Linked DNA regions of Homo sapiens. The protein of the gene in region 2 purifies or fractionates together with the protein of the main gene of each other region. This does not show direct contact. Each region holds a gene or a part of one and is shown on either strand. Other genes may lie near its edges.

Evidence for each region.
Region 1: the proteins of ABLIM1 (region 2) and SCARA3 purify together in Homo sapiens (co-immunoprecipitation; one large-scale study listed by IntAct). This does not show direct contact.
Region 3: the proteins of ABLIM1 (region 2) and FAM20B purify together in Homo sapiens (co-immunoprecipitation; one large-scale study listed by IntAct). This does not show direct contact.
Region 4: the proteins of ABLIM1 (region 2) and OSBPL11 purify together in Homo sapiens (co-immunoprecipitation; one large-scale study listed by IntAct). This does not show direct contact.

The regions. Positions count from the first base shown.
Region 1 is NC_000008.11:27,636,651-27,640,572, forward strand, and holds part of SCARA3 (scavenger receptor class A member 3), read left to right. Parts: intron 1-3,922. UniProt on the Homo sapiens protein: Seems to protect cells by scavenging oxidative molecules or harmful products of oxidation.
Region 2 is NC_000010.11:114,570,964-114,574,885, forward strand, and holds part of ABLIM1 (actin-binding LIM protein 1), read right to left. Parts: intron 444-3,922; coding exon 334-443; intron 1-333. UniProt on the Homo sapiens protein: May act as scaffold protein. May play a role in the development of the retina. Has been suggested to play a role in axon guidance.
Region 3 is NC_000001.11:179,046,088-179,050,009, reverse strand, and holds part of FAM20B (glycosaminoglycan xylosylkinase), read right to left. Parts: intron 1-3,922. UniProt on the Homo sapiens protein: Responsible for the 2-O-phosphorylation of xylose in the glycosaminoglycan-protein linkage region of proteoglycans thereby regulating the amount of mature GAG chains.
Region 4 is NC_000003.12:125,529,341-125,533,262, forward strand, and holds part of OSBPL11 (oxysterol-binding protein-related protein 11), read right to left. Parts: intron 2,675-3,922; coding exon 2,521-2,674; intron 1,241-2,520; coding exon 1,175-1,240; 3' UTR 1-1,174. UniProt on the Homo sapiens protein: Plays a role in regulating ADIPOQ and FABP4 levels in differentiating adipocytes and is also involved in regulation of adipocyte triglyceride storage. Weakly binds 25-hydroxycholesterol. Interacts with OSBPL9 to function as lipid transfer proteins.

The DNA.
Region 1 (3,922 bases), on a different chromosome or scaffold from region 2:
CTTCATGTGCCGAGCGGGATTCCTGTCTACGGAGGCCCTGAGGGCGGCGCTGGTGTGTTTTTCCTCCAGCCTCCGGAAACCCCTCAGTGATCTCCCATAACATCACAGGGGCTGCATGGGCTGCGGGGCTGGGGGCTGACTTCCAGCACTTCCCTCCCTGGCAGCCGGGAAGAGCCGCCCCTCTACCAGAGATGGAAATGGCAGGGCAGACAGCAAATAATTGGCTTCCGGGATCTGTGGGGTGTAAAGAACCAGGATTTTTCTCACTCGAGTGGAAAAAGTAAAGTGCCCGGCAGAGTAGGGCAGGCAGCCCCTTCCAGAGAACCCTTCCCGTGCTCCTCCAGAGGCCACACCAAACTTCGAATTACATCTGTTGGCAAAGGATCATGCCCTGCTCAAAACAAACACGTGATGTGATGTGATGTTGTATGGAGAACCGGTGATGGTGGGGAAGGTGATCAAGAAAACACGCTAGTCGGGCTGCCCAGCCCACCGGTGGCCGAGTGCCAGGGCCCACTCTGCCAGCCAAGCCATTTCCACCCGAGGCCCCTCCTGCCCCACGGCCAGCTGACAGGGCCTCCCAGGCCGCTGCCTCTTTTGATCCAAGCTGGCACCTGGCCCCTCTCACACGCAGCCCTAAGGGGACACTCAGGTGCCACCAGCCCCTTGGTGATAGGCCCACCTTGGAGCTTCCCACTGGCTTGTCCAAGCCATTAGCAGCCACCTGTGGGGTTGTTTCCACACTTCCAGTAAGAGTGACCCACCCCCAAGATGCCCAAGACACAGGCTGGTGCACCGTGAAGACTGATTTGAGAGTCGAAGACATGGGCTTTAGTCCCGGCCCCATCATCTGCCCTCTTCGGCCCCGTTGTCCTCCTGGGTGGTCCCTGAGGCCCAAGAGCTCTGCGCCTGAGCACCACTTGGGGAGCGGAAGTGACTCAGTGGTGAGGTGGCTGGAAGCGGGCCCACCTTGTGGCCTCTTTGCCCCGAGAGACTTCTGCTTGACTGCGGTGGCCAGGGCAGGGGGCAGCCCTCTGTTCCTCAGGCGTGGGAGAAACAACCCCTCCTTCCAGAATCAGAGAGCAGTGCCCACTTCATTTAGGCAAAGGGTGGAAGTGGGGAGAGGAGGGGCTGTGAAAACACAGCGATGCAATCCCAGGAGGAATCCGCCCTGCACCGCTCCTCTGGCCGAGAGGAGAGGATCTCCACTCATGAGCGGCCAGGCTGGGGGCCCCAGAAAGCCTGACCTCATTCCCCAGGGGCACGGGAAGGAGCCAGGGCTAGAAGAAAAGGAGCTGATGTGGTGAAGGTGAAAAGAGCCACCAGACAGCCTAACTGAGGGGTCCAGGGAGCCCAGCGGCTCAGATGTTGGAGTTCGGCTCCAAATCCTCAAACATCGGCCCCACTCCCACCCCCAGCCAAAACAGTCACTTTGCCCTCTAGCTGGGGGTAAGCCTAATAACTGAAGACTCAGGTCCCAAGGCTCATCGAGAGCGAGGAAAAAGCCTTCTGTTTCTCAGTAGGCTAGGTTGATGGATAGCTTGGCAGTTTCCGTGAAGGACAGGCAGCTGTTCTGGGTGTTAGAATTGATGTACAGGGTGGCATAGCTGGGCATGGCTCTCATACATGCACTGCCCATGTTTGATCATGTATAATTTAGTGATTGTGTGTGTGTGTGTGTGTGTGTGTGTGTGTGTAGAGCACTGAGTCCCAAGGTCAGGCCCAGCCCTGTCATAGGCCAGCTTTATCACTGGGATGAAGTCCCTGGTACTCCCTGGGGTCAGTCCCCTCATCCAGGTGGACCAGATGATCCCATGGGATGGCATCAGAGTGTAAGTTTCATGACAGTGGGGTCTCTGTCTGTTTCTGGCACTTAGGGGGTGTCCACTAAGTCTGTTCAGTGTGCACATCTGTACTGTACCATGGTATCGTCAGAACCTCACGCAGGCATTCCGTAAACATGCAGAAAGATGCCTGTATTCAACAAACAGCGATGGGGCGACTGCCAGGTGCCCGGCTCTGTATGTCTATATATGTCTAAGGACTGAGGAAGCTACAAAGAGCTCAGATGCTGCCCTTTCTCTCAGGGAGCTTACTCTTTACTAGGACACATAGGATTTGTGCCCAAGTCACTCAAAAAAAGACTAACAGTGATAAGTGTCTTAAGGGAGTTCCCAGCGAGAGAGTTTGGGGGTGGGCTGGGCTCTTTTCCTGGCTTTCCTTCTTTGCTGCTGTTCTTCGAAATGCGTCCTCGGTTTCAGCCACAGACAGGCTCCTGGTTCTTGCTGGCACCCGTTCCCTGAACAATCTCTCCCAGCCTCGAAGATGTGACATGTGGGAGCTGGCAAATCTGACGGCACCAGATTTGCCTCTCTGGGCTTCACAGCTGTATTTCCATCGGTGTCCTCAGTGTCTCCAGGTGGAGACCTGCAGGCACCTTCTTCATGGTTCAGATGAGACACCTTCCCCTTCACCTGAACCCAAGCTAAAAAATGGGTTATTCTGAGTTGTTGCCCCAGCCCACACTTTTCAGTCAGCCAACATGTATGGAGTTCCTGTTTTTAGGGAGGAAGCACGCTAGTTGGAAGGCAAGCCTGGGTGCTTTCTGCCCTCCCAGCAGAAATAAGACGTGCACACCTGAGACGAGAACCGAATCATCCAGGCAGATGCCACAAAAGAACAAATGCACGGCATATACGGGAGATTGGATGGGAATCCCGGGAGAGAAAGGGAGCATTTCAAGTTGGGCAGTTCAGAAAGGCTTCAGGGAGGAGCTGAAGGGTGGGGAGGAGTTGGATGGGGTCAGTGAAGAGGGCAGGAAGGAGTGCTGGGAAAAGTTGGACAGCAGGTCCTGGGGGAAGAGTGTTTGGTGGTGGGGGAGAGAGATGGCCTGCAGTTGAGGGAGCCCTAAGCCAGAAAGGACCTGAGTGCTCCATAAAGGACACGCGGTTGTGTCTGGTTGACATTGGAGAGACCTGGGAGGGTTTGTCAGGAGAAGGCCTATTTGCCACTTGCCCCTGGAGATATTCTCTCGTGGCCTTAGCCCATGTTGAGAAACCTCTACTTTTAGAGAGTGGGAGGAAGAAAATGAGCTTGTAAAGGAGCCAAGAGGAGCAGTCCAGGACACAGGCAGAGAACCATGATGGTAATGTCATGGAAATTGAGAGGAGAAAGTTCCAAGGGGGAGGAAATGACCCACCGCGTTGACTGCTGATCAGCAGAGTTAGCTCAGGATTCATGGATCAGAGAAGGCCAGGTTGCAAGGGCCAGAGGGGCTGAGTGGATCAGAAGCAAAGGCGCAGGAGGAGCTGTGTCCTTAGAGTGGGAGGCAGGGCCCAGCTCAAAGGATTTCAAGGCAGGGATGGCCCGTGCTCATTGGGAGGGGGAGGGACAGAAGAGGCATGGGGGGACTTGGGGACAGAGCGGTGGAATTGAGGGAGACTTGCTTTGAGAAGAAAGAATCTCTTTATCGGGAGGCAAGGGAAGGAGAAAAGATGGTTACAGACATAGACTCTGCATTACGAGCAGCTGCATTTAACCTTTTTATAACACATTTATTATTTTTTTAAAAATCAAAAAATTCCAAAAAGGAAAAACATTCACTCACGTGAACTCCTGCCCTGTAGAGATAATAAATGACAAAATGTAGATGAACATTCTTCAGAAATCATTCTGTGTATGTTTGCACAGATTTTTTTCATGTAGATAAGATTACACTATCCATGTTATTTTTATTTTTATTTTATTTTACTTTGAGACATAGTCTCACTCTGTGCCCAGGCTGGAGTGCAGTGGTACCATTGTAGGTTACTGCAGCCTTGACCTCCTGGGCTCAAGGATCCTCCCAGCCTCCCAAGTAGCTGGGACTATAAGCAGGTGCCACCATGCCCAGCTAATTTTTGTATTATTTGTAGAGATGAAG
Region 2 (3,922 bases):
CTACATTCCTACCAACAGTGTTCAAGGGCTCCCTTTTCTCCACACCTAGGCTGATGCTCGTCATCTCCTGTCTTTTTCATAATAGCTATCTTAACAGGTATAAGTTGGTATCTTATGGTTGTTTTGATTTGCATTTCCCTGATGACTTATAACATTGAGCACCTTTTCATGTACCTGTTGGCCATTTTAATGTCATCTTTGGAGAAATATCTATTCAAGTAGATAGATGACTCTCATTTCCAGCTAACAGCGTTTCTCAAAAAGGAAGGCACCTGCCTGAGCTACCTCTGGACTACATAGGTATTCACGTCAGTGGGTCACCGGGGCACTTACTGCTGGAGAAGGTGGTTTCTTTCGGACTGGACGACATCGGCTGTGCACAGAGTTGACAAAGGCAGTCTCTCCCATTGAATGTGACTCGGTCTCCGGGTGGAAACGGGCGCCTGGAGGCAGAAAGACATCGCCCTCAAGGTTATTGCAGCAATTTCATTCCTTTTCCTTATTCCTTCTGCTTGCTGCCCTCCGGTGCCCATTTATTTCTTGGAGAAGCAGCAGCCAACATGTCTGAAATGCAGTCATAACCAAGCCAGCCAGCTGGAGACAGTCCAAACAAATAAATGTGCCTCATTTTGAGAAGAAAGGGGAATGTACTGGTTCTAAGGGCAACCAGGTAGTAAAATGGAATGATTTACCTCCATTCATTAGTGAAGGGATATTCCAGCAAGTGATCTAGCAGGGCACACAGAACAGTAAGTTTCCAAATGGAAAGTCCTTCATGAAAAAATATTTTAAATACCATGAATTCCCAGTGAAGCTTAAGGCCCTGCCCCAGGAGACCTGGCTACAGGTCAAGCAGTAAGCAGTGGGTCTTTCAGTTCCCTGGGACCGTGCCTAGACCTCTGTGATGATTATGCAGGATTAGACTTTGTGCTGGACACCTACATGGGTGAACGGAACGTTTCATGGTGCTGGAGACCCAGTCCCTTATAAACTGGGAGAAATGGGACAGGCTGTAAATATCTGTTTAAGAATTCATATTAGCTTCTTTTCAGAAAGACAATTTCTCTTCATAGTAGATATTCATCAATAGCAGCACATTTTGCAAAAATATTGCCTTCTGCATGTAGATAATCAGTTTCTTCTCCCAGGTCACCAGGCAGAGAGCCCTTTAAACAAGTCATTAATGAACAGACATATGACAGTTTCCATGCCCACTCACTTGCCCTTGGCCTATGTACCAATAATCTTCATTAAAGTGATTTTTCAAATGTGTGATGCTGCCAATTAGGAAACGTGAAACTCACAAGCTGAACATCACCACAAATCTTAGTTAGAAGCAATTACTTAAGAGCAAGTACCAGCTTTTTGACATTCATTTTTACTTCCACAGCTGCTACATTCCCTTTAAGTTGCCCCTCAGTAGCCTAACAATTGGCAATTAACTGTAATAAACAACATATAGGTAAATTTGGAGTTAACCCCACAAATGTGGCTGGCTCCAGTCATCACAGAGAGTTTTAAATTCTTACACCCTTACATTTTAGAAGTCCCGAGGAGAGGTGGTGTCCTCTCCACTTGTGATGCTGTGTCACTTTCGGCAGTACAGTGAAGGCTCAGAGAGGTGAAGTGACATGCCTGGACTGACCAGCTAGGGAGATCAAGCCATAGGCAGGTGCAGATGGCATCCACCAACTTAGAACTTGTTTTATTTTTAAGAATCAAAAATCACCCTCTGCTGGATGCCAGTAGCCCTACTGCTTCACACTCATTAGCTAAACCTGAACAAGTCTTAAATCTGTTCTGTAAGGAGGGAGTCAGGAAGTTAAGGATCCATTCAACACAACACGCACAGGTTCTTTTGCCTCCGACCAGGCCAGGAGTGGACCCAGACACAGCGTTTAAAGAGGCACTCGTGCTCCGTGGCTGACCCTGCACTTGCAGGACCCTGAGAATAAGTGCCCTTTACCTGTTGCATGCCCAGAGGCACCTCGCTTACCCCACCCAAGCCCAAGCCTTCCTTCCCATCCAAGCTTATTATTTTAGACCCAAGTCCCACACGAATCCTCTATGGGACAAGCCAGAATCCAGTTCTCAACTTGGGCTGGGCCTTCTGAAGGGTGGGTTTTGTTGTTTTGTAAATGGCCCTTTTCAGTAATTTCCTCCCTCCCTATATCCTCTGCCCATACTGGATAACTTCCTTCTTTTATTTGCATGAATGTTTATAATAGAAAGAGACCTGGATTTAGAGTTAGAAAACCTGAGTTCTAACGTTAACTTGGGAATGTCCCTTAAACCGTGAGCCTCAAAGTCACTCATAAATAGAGATATTAACTCCTGGTTCCCTTCAAAGAATTGCTAAGAGGGTGAAATTAACTTCTGTATGAATATAACTTCTCAACTAAAAAGGAGGCCCCAATTCAGACAGAATTATCGTCATTCGGCAGCAGTAGAGGCAGTAGCAGTAAGTGCTCCTTTGCTGGCTCAAATGTCCAGGGACAGGGCCATAGTTAATAAATCGTTTTTTATCATTATACCAACTTCAAAGCAATGACCTCTCAGGGTCAGGATCAGAAGGGCTCTTAGAGTTTACTGGGAACACGGCCTTCCAACCTGGCTGACTGACAACATACATGAGAACCCTCCAGAAACTACTAAATTAGCATGCAGGTTTTGGGGGAAAATAGGCTAGAAATTGATCTTTGTGGAGAGACTCCCATCTCTAGTCCACTCCCACCCATCCAGGAGATTCCAGTGATGAGCGAGGCTTGAAAAATGACTCGCATCTAGTTCACAGCTTCTCATTCTAAGGTGGAGGCAATTGTCTGGAAAAAGCTAAATCACATAGGTCTCAATTCAACCTGGGAAGTAAGACTGGGACTTGGGGCTCCATGCCAGCCCAGGACTCTTAACCAGGCTGTGTGCCACAGCCTGAAAAGGGAAAAATCAGGGCAGAACTTTGCTTTTGATTAAATACAGAAAAATATTCAGTTCATTCATCCAGAATTATTAAATTATGATTTAAAAAAATGAAATAGAGAAATGAGCTAATACATAGCTATAAAGTTATTTAAATAATTTTATTATGAATATTTTGTGTCTTATTATGATTTATCAGTATTATCTTGTTAATTAATTACACAATATTGAATCTTCCCTTCTAGAGCTTACATCTCTCTGGCTTAGAAACATACAATGCTGAAAAACAGACAACACGTCTCCTCTGAATTGGGGTTTTTAGAAAGGCATAGCAAATAGATCTCCACTTGAAAAGGCACTGGATTGCAAAATTGCCAAATTAGAATTGATCAATAAAGCAGCTGACCCTTGGTGGTGAGTCTCCTAGTTACAGGAATCAAACCTATCTTAAGTTTTATAACATGCAGACCTCAAAACACAAAAACCACAAAAAGCCCCACATTTTCCCACTCACACTTCACATAGTTTTCTTGTTCTCTGACTGATCATTTTATTATTTATTTTATTTTATTTTTTTTGAGATGGAGTCTTGCTGTGTCACCCAGATTGGAGTGCAGTGGCACGATCTCGGCTCACTGCAACCTCCGCCTCCCGGGTTCAAGCCATTCTCCTGCCTCAGCCTCCCAAGCAGCTGAGATTACAGGCACCTGCCACCTCGCCTGGCTAATTTTTTTGTATTTTTAGTAGAGACAGGGTTTCACCATGTTGGCCAGGCTGGTCTCAAACTCTTGAGCTCAGGTGATGTACCTGCCTCGGCCTCCCAAAGTGCTGGGATTATAAGGGTGAGCCACCACGCCCAGCCTGACTGATCATTTTAATCAAGCTGGTTTGCACAGTTAAGATACAACCTTGGTAGATGACAGATACATAGAGAACAGGGTTGGCAAATATTTCCCCCCAAAGATGAGATTGTAAATTTTTTAAGACTTTGCGGACCATATGGTCT
Region 3 (3,922 bases), on a different chromosome or scaffold from region 2:
TGATGTAGTTTTAGTACAGATAAAAGGTAGTTTTCTGGAAGGCAAGGACTGTCTTTGTATTGCCAGCACAGTGTTAAGCACATAGTTGGTGCTTAATAAATGTCTACTAAAATGTTTATTAGACTGACCTGAAGAAATGAAGAAAAATGTGTAATTAAAACTTTTGCTGGCCAGGCACGGTGGCTCACACCTGTAATCCCAGCACTTTGGCAGGCCAAGATGGGTGGATCACCTGAGGTCGGTAGTTCGAGAACAGCCTGGCCAACATGGCGAAACCCCATCTCTACTAAAAAACACCAAAATTACCTGGGTGTGGTGGTGAATGCCTGTAATCCCAGCTGCTCAGGAGGCTGAGTCAGGAGAATCGCTTGAACCTGGGAGGCGGAGGTTGCAGTGAGCCGAGACTGTGCCACTGCACTCCAGCCTGGGCAACAGAGTGAGGCTCTGTCTCAAAAAACAAAAAACTTTTGCTTACCAGAATGGCTGTGGCAAAGCTTATAAGAGAAATTTAAATTTGGGGGAAAATAGTCTGATATAACTCAATCTTTGTTAATGGGAAGGCAACAGCGCTTTTGAAAAAAGTTGTTTGAATAACCATTCTTGTTCTTTTTTTTTAAGTTTATGATGACGTACTACAAGGAGTCCTGGACTGGCAGTGGGAGGTTGGTGTGGCTGTCATTACTTGACTGGGTAAGCTTGAGCAAAACCTTTCTCTTCTCTGGGTCTCAGATTCCTTACTTACAATATTAGGGGCTGGACTAGGAGGTAATTTCTAAGGTCTCTTTCATCTCAGACTGCATTCTGATGATTTTCTATCACATGTATGACATAAGCAAAGGATAATGAAGACTGGCATATTTCTTTCTACTAACCATTTTAAAAGATAGAATTTAAATCTGTTAATTAGGAAGAAAAAAGTACTTAATTCACCTATGTCCTCTCTATTGGTCTCCTGCATTTCCTGAATCTAAAGGAGACCTTTTAGGCTTTACAATGGACCTATGAAATAGAAATAAATTGAGAGTGATGTGGAGAAGAGAGGTTCCACTAAGGATAGTTGGCTCTCTCATGCTAAAACAGCAATAGGGAAGTGGAAAACAGTACTATAAAAGGCAGTGAACTTCAACTTAAATGACCTTAGAATATAAAGTGAAATCATATCCACAAAATATATCTTCAAGGCAAAATGATGAAGCATTTGTTAGAAGACAGCCATGTATCACCTTCTGGTTGGGCACCAGTTTCTTCTTAGCATGGTCAATATACCCAAATGTAATTTTTTGTTTGTTTGTTCCTAGTGCAAAGGATTACTTAGGAATAATTTTTTAAAAGGTTTATATTAGCTACCTCTAAATTAAAAGTCAAATTTGAAATACCCCTGCAGCAAAAAGCTGACACTATTCAGGTACTGTTCTACTACAGATGTAGGCTATCCTTGAATACTTTATTTTTAGTACTTCAGGGCAGCCACAGGAAGGTATGTGGTGAAGTGCAGTATGGTCCTTTCAGTGAAACATTAGAGAGCTTTCCAATCCATCTAAAGGCTGCGCAGAGTAAAATGCAAAAGCTTAGAGGAATACAGGAACTTTGGGAGTGGGCAGGAGAGGAAAAGATGGAGGGAAGAGAAAAGGAATAAGAATCAAAAGAACTACACTGAAGTCAGGCCTGAATCCTCAGCTCATGTTTTGGTTATGTGAAATATGGAAAATCAGAATTCTGGATCTCATTTTTCTCACCTGTAAAATGGACAGTTGGACTAGCTGATCTCCAAGGTCCCTTTTAGTACTTCCTGAGATTACTCATTCACTTCTACGCGCTTCTAGGCCCCTGCCTTCTTGTTCTTTTTCCAACATAACTGCTGTTTTTGCCTGTGAAAATCAATTACTTCTAGAATGGAAATAGCTACATTAAAAAAAAAATCACCTTTACTTATAATGTAAGGCAAAATGTGTAAATAAAAGTGTCACTCTATTCCCATATATATCATCTACCTATACTGCACACACCTTGTATCTCTGAGAGCAGGACATGGATAATCAGGCTCCAGAAATGTTAAAACCACAAGTGGCTTTCAGAGAAAGGACTTAGATTCTTCTCTTACCAGAGAGTGATCCATCTTAAGTCACTGACAGAGCAGCAAAATTCATACAGTAACTGCCAATAAATCATTCCTATCCTTCTGCTGAAGGACATCAGAGTATGACCAAGGACATTAATTTGCACTTACACCAGGACTAAATAAATAGCCTCTGAAGCCCTGGGGGTCAGAACAGCATTTTGCTGGGTGTTTAGGGACTGGAGTCAATTTCTGCAAGCACTTAAACTTACAACCACTTTCCCCAGCCTGTGATATTTCCTGATATAAAGCAGCACAGGTCAGTATGTGCAGTGACTAAGAGAGTTAGCACCTATGGCAGGGGCCAAAAAAAACCTTGCTGAGTTGGAGAAGAGAGTGCCCTGTTGCTGGGAGTGGACACAGGCTGTTTAGGAGATGATGCGGGAGCAGGGGGCCAGAGTTTGACAGAAACAAAGAGCAAAAGGAAGATAAGGCTGAGTATAGAGAGGAGGACCAGACAGTCAGGGGCTTGACCTTAGGCTGTGGAGGCTGGGTTTTGTCTGGTGGGCAATGGGAAGTCCCTGGATGTTTTAAAGCTGGGGAACATAGTGATAATAAGTCTTCTGGGGAAGAACGGGGAAGAACGGAAGTGGTTTCCAGGATGGTCTGGAGGAGGGAGGTAATGAGAAGGCTGCAGTGGTAGTAAGAGATATAAGATGAAGCAAGAAGTGACTAAGGTTATGCATTATCTGTTACTACCTCCCCTACTCATCAGTCTGGCCTCTCCTCCCACCACTTATATCTTGTCTGAACATTTCAGGCCTATCCTGCAAAGCACCTGGTCTAACACTGCACGCTCTTGGGAATATCTGTCTTCTAACACACTTCCTGCTGTCCCAACTCCCCTTCAATTCTCCAGTGTACAAGTGGTAGGTGTGATGAGGATCTCTTTTTTTTTGAGACGGAGTTTCGCTCCTGTTGCCCAGGCTGGAGTGCAATGGCGTGATCTCGGCTCACTACAACCTCCGCCTCCGGGTTCAAGCGATTCTCCTGCCTCAGCCTTCCGAGTAGCTGGGATTACAGGCACGTGCCTAGCTAATTTTTTGTATTTTTAGTAGAAACGGGGTTTCAGCATGTTAGCCAGGCTGGTCTCGAACTCCTGACCTCAGGTGATCCGCCCGCCTCGGCCTCCCAAAGTGCTAGGATTACAGGCATGAGCCACCGCACCCAGCCAGATCTCCTCTTATTTAAACACAAAATGCTCACAACTCATCTCTTTATTTATTTTATTTTACGTTTTTGAGATGGAGTTTTGCTCTTGTTGCCCAGGCTGCAGTGCAATGGTGCAATCTCAGCTCACCGCAACCTTCGCCTCCCAGGTTCAAGTGATTCTCCTGCCTCAGACTCCTGAGTAGCTAGGATTACAGGCACATACCAAAACGCCCGGCTAATTTTTTGTATTTTTAGTAGAGATGGGGTTTCGCCATGTTGGCCAGGCTGGTCTCAAACTCCTGACGTCAAGTGATCCGCCCACCTTGGCCTCCCAAAGTGCTGGGATTACAGGCGTGAGCCACCGTGCCCGGCCATCTCTTTATATACAAATTTTATTTTTGTCTTTAGTTTGCCTTTTTCCATTACTCTGTTTATGCTGCTTATCTCTCAGGCCAAGAAGTCAAAGACCAAACTTCAAAGCTAAATGCGATTTTTGATGATGAGTGCTCCACGTCATCACTTATGGGAAGCAAACAAACTTAGAGAATTCCATGTGTGTGGCAGAATACAAGCTGTTTACAACTCTAACAAATATGGGTTCAAACTTCTGTACCACTGATTGATGTGAGGTGACCTTGTCAAGTTAGTTACACT
Region 4 (3,922 bases), on a different chromosome or scaffold from region 2:
TCAACAAAATACTTATTTAAAAAAAGATTTGTACCTGAATACAACTTCCTGATCTTTTTTTCCTGATACCTTTTCATTTCGTTGTTTCTTTAGCATTTAAATTTCCTCAAAAAAAAAAAAAATAAATAAAACCATACCTTACATGCGCGTTCAGTTACACATATAAGTTTTGAATTACTGACAAATATGAATAGAATCATTTATTTTAATTTTTAACAGAGGTAAAATAAAGCATACTTATCCAAAGGGATAACACATAATACTGGATATTAACCTAAAGGTGAAAAGAAAGAAGGAAAAAAGTAACAGTTTTATTTTTTAATATTTGCTATTTTCTTTAATGCCTTAGTTCTGGAGAAAGGCTAAAATCTCATCATATTGACATTAACACATTTTTAAAAAGTGTCTCTCAAGTGTAATATTTAATAAAACTAGGTACTGAAAAATGTTCTGAAATTTTTCAAGTCAATGTTGTTTTCAAGTATATTAAAATGCTCAGAAGAAAAAATTCTCCATGGTTATAATTCTGATCAATCTATAAATGTACTTTTTAAAAGAGAGTTCCAACAGAGGTGGATAATAGGTAAGTTCCTCAGACACAGGCATACAGTCTTTTTGAAGAAATAGAATGCCTTGTTACCACAACCTGGTTGATTTTTTTTTTTAAACACTGATTTCAGGCACAATGGCTGAATCCACTTCTGGGTCATCTTTCTCCTCCTCTTGGTTGGTTTACAAGAGTAGTGAATACTTCAGTTATGGACAGAAAGAAAGACACAAACTCTGAAACGGAGACTTCACTTTTCACTACAAAGAAATCAAAGTCACTGAGTTCTCATTGTTGTGTGTATCTGCTGCCCCTGTGCAAAAATAGGGGATTCAAACTTAACTTTAGGAGCAAGAACTGGATAAAAGATTCATCTACTGATTCAGGTAACAAGTTTTAAGATGGTATTGCTCACATCACATGAACAGGTTGGTAAAAGGTCCACTGTGTTTCTTTACCACTTTGGTCTTGCTGCAGTATTATGGTGCCCTAGTAGGTACATTCAGGTTTAGCTAGTTTCAGTCTGCGCAATCAGGAAGCAGGTCACTCAGTGCAATGACTCCATTCTGGGAGGATTTAGGGTAAACAGAGAAGAACCTCATTTGGTCGAGTTTTAGATAGTATGTGTCACTCTGCTGGTTGTGTTGTTGGAATTATTTTCCAAAGTGGTTTATGATAAACCCAGCCATCTCCCTGAAACAAATAAAAAGATAAAGAATCATCCCTCTAATATTATCAAAATCAGTAACCAAAACTAGAAGCAACACCTTCACTGAAATGGAATTCTATTTTCACATTCAAAAACAAGTTTTTGTGAAGGAATAAAGTCTTTGTGATTAAGACATCAAACGATGCCTGTGGTTTAGCTAGGATTTAGGTGAGAAGACATGGTATGGGAGGATCTAGTTTGTGACCCATGAACATTTAATTTTGCAAGAACCATTTGTAGCAATTTTGCCAATTTCGCCAAGATGCTACAGATTGAGCCTCACTCACAGAGTTATGGGCAGCAGGTGGAGTACAGAGAAATGATCGGGAAGGTACTAACTGTTCTCCCTGTCTCCACTGGCACCCCAGAACTCATTTTTTTTCTTTCCTTTTTTTTTTCCCCCAAGACGGAGTCTTGCTCTGTCAGCCAGGCTGGAGTGCAGTGGCACAATCTTGGCTCACTGCAACCTCCGCCTCCCTGGTTTAAGCAATTCTCCTGTCTCAGCCTCCCAAGTAGCTGGGATTACAGGCACGTGCCATACCCGGCTAATTTTTGTATTTTTAGTAGAGATGGGGGTTTCACCATGTTGGCCAGGCTGGTCTGAAACTCCTGACCTCATGATCCGCCCGCCTCGGCCTCCCAAAGTGCTGGGATTACAGACGTGAGCCACCGCGCCAGGCCCCCCAGCTCATTTTTCTTTTTTTTTTTTTTGGAGACAGAGTTTCACTCTTGTTGCCCAGGCTGGAGTGCAATGGCGCAATCTTGGCTCACTGCAACCTCCGCCTCCTGGGTTCAAGCAATTCTCCTGTCTCAGCCTCCCGAGTAGCTGGGATTACAGGCATGTACCACCACACCTGGCTAATGTTGTATTTTTAGTAGAGACTGGGTTTCTCCATGTTGGTCAGGCTGGTCTCGAACTCCTGACCTCAGGTGATCCGCCTGCCTCGGCCTCGCAAAGTACTGGGATTACAGGCATGAGCCACCGAGCCCGGCCACCCCCTAGCTCATTTTTAATGATATATAGATGTTCTCACTTAGAAACTCTTCTTTCTTAGAATCTGTTCTTGGTATATCTGCCTTTTTTTTGAGACAGAGTCTTGCTATAGGTTACCCAGGCTGGTCTCAAAAACAGTTGGTATTTATATACAGCCATACTACTTTTAAAAATAAAGATGTATAAGTGATAGCAATTCAACAAAGCCTAGTAAGCTAAAGTTCTCAGCCAAGTAGATACATTTTTATCTTGAACACATGTACAGCATACCTCTTTAATAAAATATTTGGTTTTCCAAGGTGTGCCTGTTTCAGTACGATGCCTTTCTTCAGTCCTCTGACGTTCTTCCAGGGTATGCTTATGCTCTGTGGCCTTATCAATTTCAGATTCTCTCAGCGAGTCTGTCACATTTTTCCACAATCGCCTGAAATCCAAAAACCACACATTTTACAAGCATTCTTTAAAAGAGATAATTAAATAGAATCAATACCCTCAAAATTACAATAATTTTATAAAATAACGTTTCCTAAATCACATCTACAATGTCATGCTTATGAATTCCAAGAATAACGATACTGTGCTGCTGATGGTTATGTCCAGGATGCTGCTCCTTCTGCTTCTTTTTAAATTAAAAATAATTTGTATTTTTCCAGGTTATAAAAGCAGGATTTTTTGTTTTTAGAAAACTTAGAAATTAACGAGTAAAAAGAGAAGTAAATTTTCAAAGTTGAAATGTAAGCAAGACTAATTGTGCTTCTGGACATGATGAAATAATGGGGAACACATTTATTTTCCTGCCTTCATCAACCAGGAAACCAGGCAACATATAATACAATAGTGGTTTTCAGATACTGAGCAAAAGGCAGTGCAGGGCAGTGATCCTTGAGAAAGGAAACAAATGAGGGGAGTCCTATGAGTGCTCTAACTCGCTGTCCAGAGTGTTTCTAGGCCACGCACAGGGAGAGGGAAGCTTAACAAATCTCAAGCAAAAAAAAAAAAAAACAAAAAAAAACTGCCACAACACTTCTTTAGGGAAAGAACTGTTTGTTGAACAAATGGTGCTGGGACAACTGGATATACATGTGAAAAAAATGTAGTAAGTTAAACATAAAACTACCATAAACCCAGCAATTCCACTCCTGGGTATTTACCCAAGAAAAATGAAAATAAATGTCCATACAAAGACTTGTAGGAGAATGTTCACAGCAGTATTATGGATAGGCAAAATGTGATATATCCATACAGTGCAATACTATTCAGCAATAAAAAGCAATGAACCACTGATACATGCAATTAATACTTCATGGATGAACCTCAAAAACGTTATACTAAGGAAATAAGCCAGGCATAAGAGATCACACATTGTATGATTTATATGAAATATCCAGAAAAGGCAAATTTATAGAGACAGAAAGTTAGTGGTTCTCTGGGCTGGGGGTAATGGGGATTAACTGTAAATGAACAAGAGAGATCTTACGGTAGGATGAAAATATTCTAAAACTTATTTATGGTAATGACTGTACTACTCGAGAAAGTTACTAAACATCTGTTTTTTCTTTCTTTCTTCCTTTCTTTCCTCCCCCCTTCCTTCTCTTCCTCCCCTTCCCTCCCTCCCTTCTCTCTCCCTCCCTCCCTCTTTCTCTTCTGTTCTCGTCTCTTCTCTTTTTTCTTT